Linked DNA regions of Homo sapiens: region 2 is linked to region 1. Evidence: fine-mapped expression QTL. A gene starts in region 1. The other region holds a variant in brackets. All regions are shown on one strand. Distances are from middle to middle.

Region 1 (5,372 bases):
AATATTTATTTTATTGCTGGAGTAAAACCTGCGAGAGTTGGAGGTACGTTTAGGCCCGAAGTTTGAATGTGCAACAGCCCCGGGCGCAGCGACTCACACTCTCCGGACCCGGAGGAGAAAGAACTGACAAGCAACAGCGGCCAGCAAGGCCTTCTTCCCCCTCATGGTGCCTCCCGCTGGAAAGTTTTCCACGCAATCGATCGGAGGACAAGGAGCCCATTTCCCCCGCCTGCCTGACTTTGCAGGAAAGGCGAGCCGGGAGACCGGAGGGGGCTGGCAGGGAAAGAACTGGAAAGCTCCGCACACAGCCGGCGGCAGGGCTGCGCAGGCTCCTTACCTGGAGGACGCGGAACAAAAAGGGGCGCGGGGTTCGCGGAGCTTGGGGTGGCGGCGCGGCCGGCGGACGGGAACCGGTCTCCGAGCCGCGGCTCTAGGCCCGCGCCACAGCCCGCGGCCCGGCCCCCGCCGCTGCCGCTTCCTCCCTCGCGCGCGTCATGTCACGGCAATCAAACATGTCTGTGTGCTGTGTGCGCTTCGCTGCTGTGACTTCCTGATTCTCCGCCGCTCGCGCGCGCACACACACACACTCACAACCACACGCACACGCCACCCCCACCAGCCCTCGCCACCAAACCTCGCCTTGTCCTCCCCGGGCTCCAGGGGAGGGTGCGGGCAGGAGCAGCTGCCCGAGCCGCTGCTCCCGACGCACTGGCTCCTGCGCGCACAACACACACTCACACTCACACTCACGCGCAGACACACTCGCGCCGGCCGGGAGGGCGCGGAGGCTGGAGCCGCGGGAGCTCGCAGCCCCCTCCCACCCCTCCACCCTACTTAGCCGCCCTGCCAAACTTTTTTTTTCCTGCCTGATCCACGTCCAACTTCCCTCCACCCCACCCCCCAAGCAGCCCAGCCAGCCCCGCGCTCACCACCATCCGCAGCAAACGGCAACCCGGATAAAAATAATAATGCAATCCAGGCGGCAGAGGCGGAGGCGGAGGCGAGCGATCAGACACTGGCAGGAGGCGATTTCCCCGCGTGTACCGGAAACCGGCCCAAGTGCCCCGGCCAAGGCGCGGGTGTCCGCCGGAGCCCGCACTGCCGCGCCCCGCCCTCCGCCGTGTAACTGCACCCAGGCTGCGAGGCCTGGTGCGGGGCACCGGGAGCACTGTGCTCCGTGTGCGCCCTGCGGCCGGAGGGCGCCGAGGGGCTGGCGCGCCGGACCGGTTATTTAGGGAAGTGCATCGCGACACCTTTGCAGATGGCATGGCCGTGTTTTGCAACGCAAACGGGAGGAAGGGAAGACGGCCGGGTGGAGGGGGAGAGCAAAGGAAGGGGTAAACCAGGTTGGGATGGGAATAAAGCAAACTCCTGAGCAGGGAGCGAGAAGGAAGGAGTGCGTGTCATCGTTGGGAGGAGGCTCCTACCCGGTCTCCCCGCCTCCCGCCCTCGCCACCCCCCTATTCCCTCCCCACCGCAGCCCTTCCCCTTCCCGGGCGAACCACACCGCCGCTGCCCGGTGGTGCGCGGGTCCTGTTTGTGACAGTCAGGCAGACAGGATTATCCGGATCATGGCCTCCCGGGCCCGCAGCCGCCGCCGTGGCTCTCCTGGGTCCCGGCGCGCCCCTAGCACCCGGACGATCGCAGGCGCCCCACGCCCGCAGCTCCCGCGGCGCAAGCAAGGGGAAGACGCGAAGCAAAAGAACACGGACCCGGGGAGAGGGAGGGCAGGGTAACGGAGGCTGGCGGGCACCTCCGACCTCCTTGGGGGCCTCCTCCCTTCCCTCCAGCAGTGCGGCCCGGGCCGGACATCCCGAACTTTAACACCCGAGCCTGCGCTGCCGCCAGGTACCAGAGGCAGGGACGTCCGCAGCGCCCGGGGCGCAGCCCCCTGGCAGCCCCTTTGCCTAAAGGCCTGCCTACCAATCAGCCTCCCCATCCACGCCGGAGGAAACGCGGAAAGTGGAGGTGACACCTCCGATCAGGCACGCACCGGCCCCGCGGCAGTGGCCGCTACCTCCTTCGCGCGTCAGCTCAGGCTTCTCCCGCTGCGATCCGCTCACGTCTCCGCAGCCGGAGCCCTTTGAACAAGTCCCTGGGAAGCGGGTGGCAACAGCGTCCGTTGGCGCCCCGCCGCCAGCCTGGGCTCCCCGCCCTCCTTTCCCGTTCCCCTTCCAACTCTTCCGGGGAGGGTTGCCCGGGATGAACAGTAGCGTTTCCATCCTCCTCCCCTGTCCCCCAGGCCTTCCCCCTCCTGCGGCCACCCCCCTCCCCGCCGCCTCACTTTTAAGGGGATGGGGGGATTGCAACCTGGCCCAATGTGTGTGTTGCAACCTTGAGTTGGCAGCGCCTCTGACTGCCCACTCAGGATCAAGGCTGTGGCTTGTTGGGATTTTTTTCCTCCTTTGCCCCCTTGAAGTAGTAATTATTACTGTTATTATTAGAACAGCAAGGTTCGGTTGAAACTTTCTCGTTTCTTCCACCGCCGCCTGGGAGCTGTCGTTAGAGCATTCCACCTGAGGCCCGCGGGGAGGAGGCGGGCTTTTTTTTGTCGCGGCGGTTGGCCCGCCTGTTTGTTTTGGTCTCCTTGCATGCACAATAAATAATAATTAGGATAATAATGGATAATCCCGGGCGAAGGCGGCGTGGTGCCGGAGGGGTCTGAGCGGCGGCTGCAGCGGGGCGGCCGAAGGGAGGGGAAAGAGGAGAAAAGAGTTGTAAGTTATATTTACCTTGCTCGCGAGGAGTGTGCTGGCTGAATCTCTTCCCTCTCTGAGTCACCCAGAGTACAGAAACAGAGGGAGAGAGGACTAGATTATGAATATGACTTCATTGATGACAGCCGTCCCCTCCTCTTCCTAAACTCGGGCTCCGCCCAGCGTCCCACCCTCGCCTCCTCCGCGGGCGCCGGAAGACGCGCCGCAGTTGGCCCCGCGCGCCGCTCCTCCCTGCCCGTCCGGGCGCGGGTTGGCGGGACGCGCCTGTCACTCGCTCAGCTCAGCGACTCCGGGAGCGCGGGGGGAGGAGGGGGCGGTGTGCAAGAATGTGGATCTAGACAGCTCTACTGTATGCGTGGATCCGTGTGTGACTGCAAGGCGCCGGCTCTCGGGCCGCGTTTGTGCCTGGAGCAGAGAAACTGCGCGGGATGCAGAAAGCCCCAAGCCCTGCTGGAGCTGGGCGCCCGCTGTCCCTTCCCTGGCAGTCCTCTTCCTCGGGCGCCGCGGGGCTCCTCCAGGGAGACTGCGGAAGGGGAGGAGGCGAAGCGAAAACGGAGGGCAGCCGTAGTAATAGCGCGTAGTAGTTCGGGGGTATGTGGAGAAGGTGCTGGAATTTAACTGTGCCTCCGCCTGCCAGTGCGAGCCTGCAGAGAGAGAGGGAGGGGACGGGGGACGGGCTCCGAGTGGCACCAAAGCTGTTTGTGGCACAGTGTGGACTGTGGAAAAAACGGGCATTGTCGTGCCGGCTGAAACTTTTTCTCCCCCTTCCCTAAGGCTGTCATTATAAATCTGCCCCCTATTCCAGGTAAAAAAATAAAAAATAGAAAAGGGAGGCGGGCACAAAGAACGTTCCTGCCAAATCTGTCTCTTCCCTGAAGGACTGCAAGCTTCCAAATGCCAACGAGGGAGAAACAGCTGAGAGGCTGAACGCCTTATAAATAAGTAAACCCACCCTAACCTCTCTGTTTACTTCGTGGACTAGGTACAGCACTATAACCTTCCCTCACCTGCCATCTTCGCTAAAATATATACAAAAATATGGAAAAACAAACCCTGGGGGCGGGGCTGGCGGGTTAGGGGGCGGCTGAAGCATGGAATCTGGTTTTGATTTAAAAAGGGGAATAAATCTCTTATTTTCTACAGACCGTAGTCTCTTCCCTCTCACCCCGCATTTGAGACCAATTAAGGCTGCAAATTGTAATTTGCTGGCAAGTCGCGGTTTTGAGACCTCTTTGCTCCAATTTTCCTTGAAATACAGTACTTTGGCCGGACCAATAGGTCGGTGTTTGGTGAGACAATTTTATTTTTAGTTTTATGAAGTGTGAAAGAATGTTAGGAGACTTTAAATCAGGGGCCTATTATTTTAGACTCAGATTAATGTAGATGCTTGACTCTTAAAACTGTTCCTATGCAGTAGTGTTATGAAAAGTATGATTTATCCCTTATTTCGTAATGTAATGGCTTAAATTAGTCATTCAAAGTGCACTGTGACTATCTGGTTGAGGATTCTTCCCCCTAGAGTAAAATCCTATTTTAAGACCATTTTACTGTTGCAAAATTGACTCCATTTGAGCAACTGGGTCTGAAATGCAGTTCTAGGATGCTTAAAACTTCAGGCTGGATAAGTTGAAGACAAGAAGTAATGGAAAGAACGCCAAATACTGCCATGTAGTCATTAAGAAGCAAGAATTCTTTATATCACTGGTCCACTGCTGGCTGAAGCAGAGCCCACTAGGGCAGCATTTTCATGATGGCTGGGAGTGTTGGTGATCACCCACCCTATAGCTTTCTAAGGTCTTGCTACTTGCTTGTTAACTTTAGCTTCATCATTTTCTGTCTATCTTGAAGTGAACCTCAAGACAACGAAAGATAACACAGCTAAGAGAAATAGAATATAGTGTGCCCTGAAGGATCCATTGTAAGAACTTGTTTTTCTGCCTGAGGATATGCCGGTATAACTATTAACTGAGAAATATATAGGGAGAAATTTTAAACAAGACTAGTAGTATAGTAAAAGTGTAACATAAATACTAACTTCTAACTGCCTAATAAGTCGCAACTAATAATATAGCCAGATAACCTACCTGTCTCTAATAAAGAGATTTAACCTAATAGCAATGCTTATTACATTGAGAGTATTAGGTTTTAATTTTTTTGGGGTCTAATTTGTTTCTCTGGCATGCCGGCCTCACATGCCAATTTTCAGAAATTGATAACTTCACTTTTATTCCCTTGTGAATAAATGCCCTTTATCCCCTTAAGATTCTACTTCCACTTGCCATGCAAATCCTCAAAAAAACAAAAACAAAAACAAATCAATTAGTAAGTCCCTGGAGAAAGAAACTGTCCATTCCTTCTGGCATTTTGTCACAGGGAAAGTAAAGAAGAAAACATTCCCTTTGTTATATGTGTATATTCTTCAGCTCATATAAAATTTTGATGTTGTCCTTGGAGGCGTTGGTATCCACGCATTGTATACACACAGCTATGGGAATTAAAATACATCGTTGGGAACAGAGATTAAATATAGATATTGCATCTCCCTCTCCCTTCGCATTGGTCTAAGAAAGCACCACCTTCCCCCATCACCCTTCAAGTTGTTCCTCTAAAAATTCGTCTTGTTTGTAGTTTGTACCCTAGCAGTTACGAATTTTA
Region 2 (5,372 bases), 94 kb before region 1:
TTGAGCACACCAGGAGGAGAGGAGTCACATCACGTCTTCCTTCCTCCCCCTTAGATACCCAGCCTAGCTCACTGCCTGCTGCATAACAGACACTCAATAAATGTTTGTGGAACAAATACTGAATCCATAATGCTAAAAAGAAAAACTGCAGATCTCTCACATCAATATGAATTCTACCTGAGCCTTGGAATGAAACACTTTTATGTATTTATAAAAATACGTAACCATATTTCCTGAAGACTTAGAACTAATATATTCTGTGCTGGTGGCTCCCAATCCTTTTCAAGATCAGAAAATTTTAATAGTCGCTTTAATTTATTCACCTACAGAGAATGGTAAGTACACGCAGTGGCCCAGTGTTGGTGGTTTGGGCCCACAGTTGAGTCTTTAAATCAGTGCTCCTCATCTGTATGAGAATCTATTTCAGAATCTCCTGGGAGCGCTCAAAGGAAGCACCTAGCTCCACCGAATAAGAAAACTGGGGTGCGGTGGCAGGGAACAGAAAGCAGGCATGCATATTTTTTAAAAGCTCCCTTAGAATTTTAATGTACCCCTGAATGTGATTTCCTGCCAAAAGTGACGCTATATGGCACTGCCACTCAGTCTTCGCAACCCAGTGAGATAGTGTTACTGTTGAGAAAACCAGGGCTCAACGAGGAGCCTAGGAAAAGCTGATGTAGAATTCATACTCCTACGTGAGAGTTGCCATTTTCTTTTTGCTTTTCTTTTTTTTTTTTTTTTTTTGAGACACGGTCTTGCTTTGTCGCCCGGGCTGGAGAGCGGTGGTACGATCATGGCTCACTATAGCCTCTGCCTCCCAGACTCAAACAATCCTCCCACCTCAGCCTGCTGAGGAACTTGGGACTACAGGTATAAGTGCCACTGTGCCCAGCTAATTTTTGTATTTTTTTGTAGAGACAGGGTTTCACCATGTTGCCCAGGCTGGTCTCAAATTCCTGGGCTCAAAGCAATCCTCCTGCCTCAACCTCCCAAAGTCCTGGGATTACAGGCATGAGCCACCACACCTGCTCTTCATTTTTACTGTTTTGAATTCAACATTTGCTCCAGTATGAATCAAATCTTGACCAATATCACCCTACCCAATATCCTACAGGCAGATGCCTCACCTCCCAGAGTAACTTAGAAAACCAGTGCCATGAGAGACCCGCTCAATTTAAAAAAAAAAAAACAAAACATCAAAGTACTGCTTTAAAAGGATAGCCCTGAACTTACCTGGCTAAAAGAGCTTTACAACAATAAATGCTCATTAGAATATGTTTTGATGATGACTTTAAATAAAACACAAAATAAAAGGTTAACTACTGTAATACTATTTGGCCTTGGGGAAGTTACTTACCCTGCCTAGGATTCAGTTTCCTTGACTGCAAAGATTCAAATCATATTAACCGTCTGACAGGGTTGTCGTAAAACTGAATGAAAAAATGCCCAAGAGGCTGACACAGATTAAGGGTCCCATGAATGATGGTTGCTATTGTTCTTACTGCTATGATTTTGCAACATTTTTGACTTATCCCTCATTAAATATACTTTGTTCAATGGCAATCCCAAGAGATGGGATTAAAACTAAGGAGAAACTAAGTTTTTCTACCTCAAACTTCAGCTCTTCAAAGGCATATGTGGGACCTCGTATCTATGCTCTAAGGGAGATAAGAAAACAGCCAGAAGAATTGGCTCCAAGAAAGCAACAGCCCACTCGTTTAGATATTTGCTCTGTCCTGTAAATGTGAATAATGAAACTGATCATCTTTTAGTTGCTCTCCAGAGGGAGGCCTGGGCACCTGAGTGGGACATGCAGACCTGATGAGGATTCCAGTCGCTGTCAAAGATGACCACTGTATCAGCTGCCTGAAGATTTAAGCCCAGGCCACCAGCTCTTGTGCTCAGCAAGAAAATGAAATACTGGGATCCAGGTTCATTGAATTTCTTCAGCAAAGCAGCACGATCTTCAGACTTGGTGGTGCCTGAGGGGATCAGAAAAATTAATTTGCCAATTAACTCTTGTCTGAAAATGGCACAGAATGAGACAAAAAGGCTTGCTTCCTTCAAGAAATATACCCAGACTCCTCCTAACACTGGTGAGGTAATTTCCAGGGCTTTGTACTTCTGGATAAAAAACTTTGAACATTTTGCAATTACAAAAAAAAAGAAAGAAACAGCTTAAACATTTCTAATGAGGCATCTTCGCAACTTCACAAATTTTACAAAATCCTTACTCTCACCTAAAACAATGAAAACATTTTTTGGATTTATTTCTGTGATTTATAACAACAAATAATTTTAAGAACACACACACTTCCTCTCTCGCCCTGTCTCTTTCACTCTCACACACACACACGTGCACTTAAAACTGTAATAATGGCTTAAATAAACTTTGCCAATAGGCATTAAAGCAAGGACTTTTTTTATGCCAAGAAAATAGAAAAAAAAGGAAAGTTCTTTTCTACTACTTTACCATTTGGATTACTACTAAGTATGGTCTGGTTGGTAAAAACATAAATTATGAATGTAATTTTTTTTTTGCAAATGGAATAATTTTATCCTTGTTAGCAAGACTTAAAGCCACAATAATCCCCACCCCCCCCACAAGAAATCTCTTAGTCTGTTTCTCACGTTATCATCCTGCTCTGTTGAGTTCAAAGCATGCTAAATCAAAACCAACTAAACAGAGCAGCATGTTAAATACTTGGGGGTG[G/C]TTTGCCCCATGGGGTCTGAAGAGGCTCCAAAATAGTGAATAAGCAGACAGTACCAAACCTCAGAGTCTGGTGCTCACTTTTGGGGCATTCTTGCATTCCAGATGAGCCACTCAATCACATATTATGTATGTGTAATGTATTTACCCAGCCATTTCATGAAATGCATTGTGGAAGGGGAGAAAAAAAAAACACCAGTATTCCATCTGAACATATTTCACCAGAAAAGCTTAGATGCTGAATTTTGAAAGAAGGCTTTAGGCTGTTGGGAAATATGTATGCATGTTACATGACAGTCTCTGACCAGCTGCTCTTCAAATATTATTCCTACATGCTGTTCATTTTTTAAGGATGAAAACATACCAGCAATTTATTTCAGAGGATTAAAACATTTAAGTGACTATAGCTAATGAAATCAAGTTACTATGAGGGCCAAGTTCTCAAACATGGGGACGATCTGTTTTTCACATTTAATAAAAATAACAAATGCCCTCCTGAAGAGGGAGAAAACAAATCACTTCCCTGCATACAGCAAACAGGGATTAGAAATGAGGGGTCTGGGGGCTCTCATTGAGTCACATGGAGTCACATTCTTTAGACCCAATTTACTTTCTACATTAGGTTTCGAGTTTAGTGAACTGGTGAGGTCCGACACAATCAACTGTCCGAGTTTAGATTTTGGAGGAGGAGCACTAAACATGCTTTGATGAGTGAGCTTTCAAATGTGGGGCTCTTTTTTCTTTTATTTTCAGAATTGGCTTTCTGAGATCATGGTGAACTATCTGTTCACGACGCTAATGGAAGATATTTCTGCTGTGAAACCTTCTCTATCATCTTTCCAGCTACAAGAATTTTTTTAAAAATTACATGTATTAATGGTTCACATATTTCTCCTCTGCCTTAAACTGAATGAAAAGCCACAGAAACCAAAAATTTCTTCTAAAATGGGGAAAGAAGAGATCATGGCATCTGTGTTTCTGAAAACTGGGTACAAAACTATACATCTATACTCTCAGGATAGAAGTTCAACAGTTTTGATTAACTGAAAATGAACCAGCTGATAATCACACGGATTAATGAAACCGAACAGTTAATCTCATCAGGTCTGCCTGCCCTGCATGCTTCTGGTTTCTTGCTTTTTGTTATTTTTGTTTTCTCTTTTTCCATGAAGCTGAAGGCTGCAGTAGCTGAAGGTCTTGCTGCTGAATGCTCAAACTTGACCTTCACTGGCTACTTTACAGATAACATGCATACGTCACCATGGTAATGGTTACTTCAGTTGTTTTTCAGGAACTTTGGCCAGCTCTGTCCAGTTCAAACCCGTTGACACCACTGGCCCTTAAACTGGGCCTGAGCGCAAGTGCCCAAGAGATGGCCTTTTGATGTTGGAGAGCCAAAAACTCCACCATCAGATCATGCTGACTCTGCCATTTTTTGTATGTATGTCCTAGGAAATGCCATGAACCCTGGCTATGCCTGTGTAGAACGAACCTGTGATTTCATTTTTCCCCACTGCCAATCACCTTTCCCTGTGCCTTACACCACCCCACTTCCTTACCCCATAAATATCCCTAAACCTTATCTTCAGGGAGGTAGAGTTGAGGGCTGTTCTTCCATCTTTATGCTTGGTGCCCTTGTGAATAAATCTTTTCTCTTTTGCAAAACCTGTGTCACAGTGATTGATTTACTGCACGTGGGCAGAACAGACGTGGATCTGGCCAGTAACATAAGATATAAATACAACCAATGCCTACTGAGATGAAATAACCTTACATGCAAAATAAAGCACTGAAAAACAAAAGGAATATCCAAATAAAATTATTTGGTCAAAGGAGTTTTCAGACCCTATAACAGATACCTCAAGCAAACAGGCCAACCATATATCTGGTGTGTATTTAAACTGTATAGGCCAGGCATGGTGGCTCACACCTGTAATCCCAGCACTTTGGGAGGCCAAGGTGGGCGGATCACCTGAGGTCAGGGGTTCGAGATCACCCTGGCCAACATGGTAAAACCCCATCTCTACTAAAAATATAAAAGTTAGCTGGGCATGGTGGCACACATCTGTAATCCCAGCTACTTGGGAGGGTGGGGCACAAGAATTGCTTGAACCCAGGAGGCGGAGGTTGCAGGGAGCCGAGATGCACTCCAGCCTGGGGGACAGAGCGAGACTCCGTCTCAATAAAATAAAATAAAATTAAATTAAATAAACTGTATAAATAGCTGGGAACTTGACAAATTATAAAAAACAAAAAAGATTAAGTCATTTTTCATACAAAGCTATGGCATTTCTTATCATAAGGTTTGCAATTTGCTAGAAAACCCTTTCTGTCAAAGATTTCCAAGTCAAGATCTTTGCTGATCATCAGCAATCTTTTTAACAAATATTTTTTTAATTTAACAAATTTTTTTTGTTAAATTTAACAAAATTTTTAATATTGTTCAGGGAGATTCAAACTACCATGTAACAGTCTATCCAAAGGCAGACACTCCTTGCAAGTGGCTCAAGATTTAACGTGCTCAATACTAACATCAGTTTCATGGTCTTTCAGACTTTGATACATAACCAATTATAAGCATACAATTAATAGGGCAACTGTGTTGAAAATTACAGAATTTACCAGAAGGAACACACTGTCAGACTTTCATGATGACTAATTT

The links. PIP is the estimated chance that this variant, and not a neighbour inherited with it, causes the effect. A credible set is the group of variants that fine-mapping cannot tell apart.
Region 2: its variant is the best candidate, but not a certain one, in a credible set for the expression of SMARCA2 in fibroblasts (GTEx, PIP 0.77).

What each region holds. Positions count from the first base shown.
Region 1 is chr9:2,012,765-2,018,136 of GRCh38, reverse strand. It overlaps SMARCA2 (SWI/SNF related BAF chromatin remodeling complex subunit ATPase 2), which reads right to left and starts at 2,790. Exons shown (of 34, transcript NM_003070.5): 1 at 2,733-2,790. RefSeq lists silencers at 681-870, 1,021-1,130, 1,431-1,600, 2,741-3,080 and enhancers at 1,788-2,344, 3,131-3,180, 3,241-3,290.
Region 2 is chr9:2,106,864-2,112,235 of GRCh38, reverse strand. It overlaps SMARCA2 (SWI/SNF related BAF chromatin remodeling complex subunit ATPase 2), which reads right to left. Exons shown (of 34, transcript NM_003070.5): 24 at 1,819-1,982. Among named protein-coding and RNA genes, the nearest start is that of SMARCA2, 94 kb to the right of the region's middle. The variant G/C (reference allele first, on the strand shown) is at 2,714.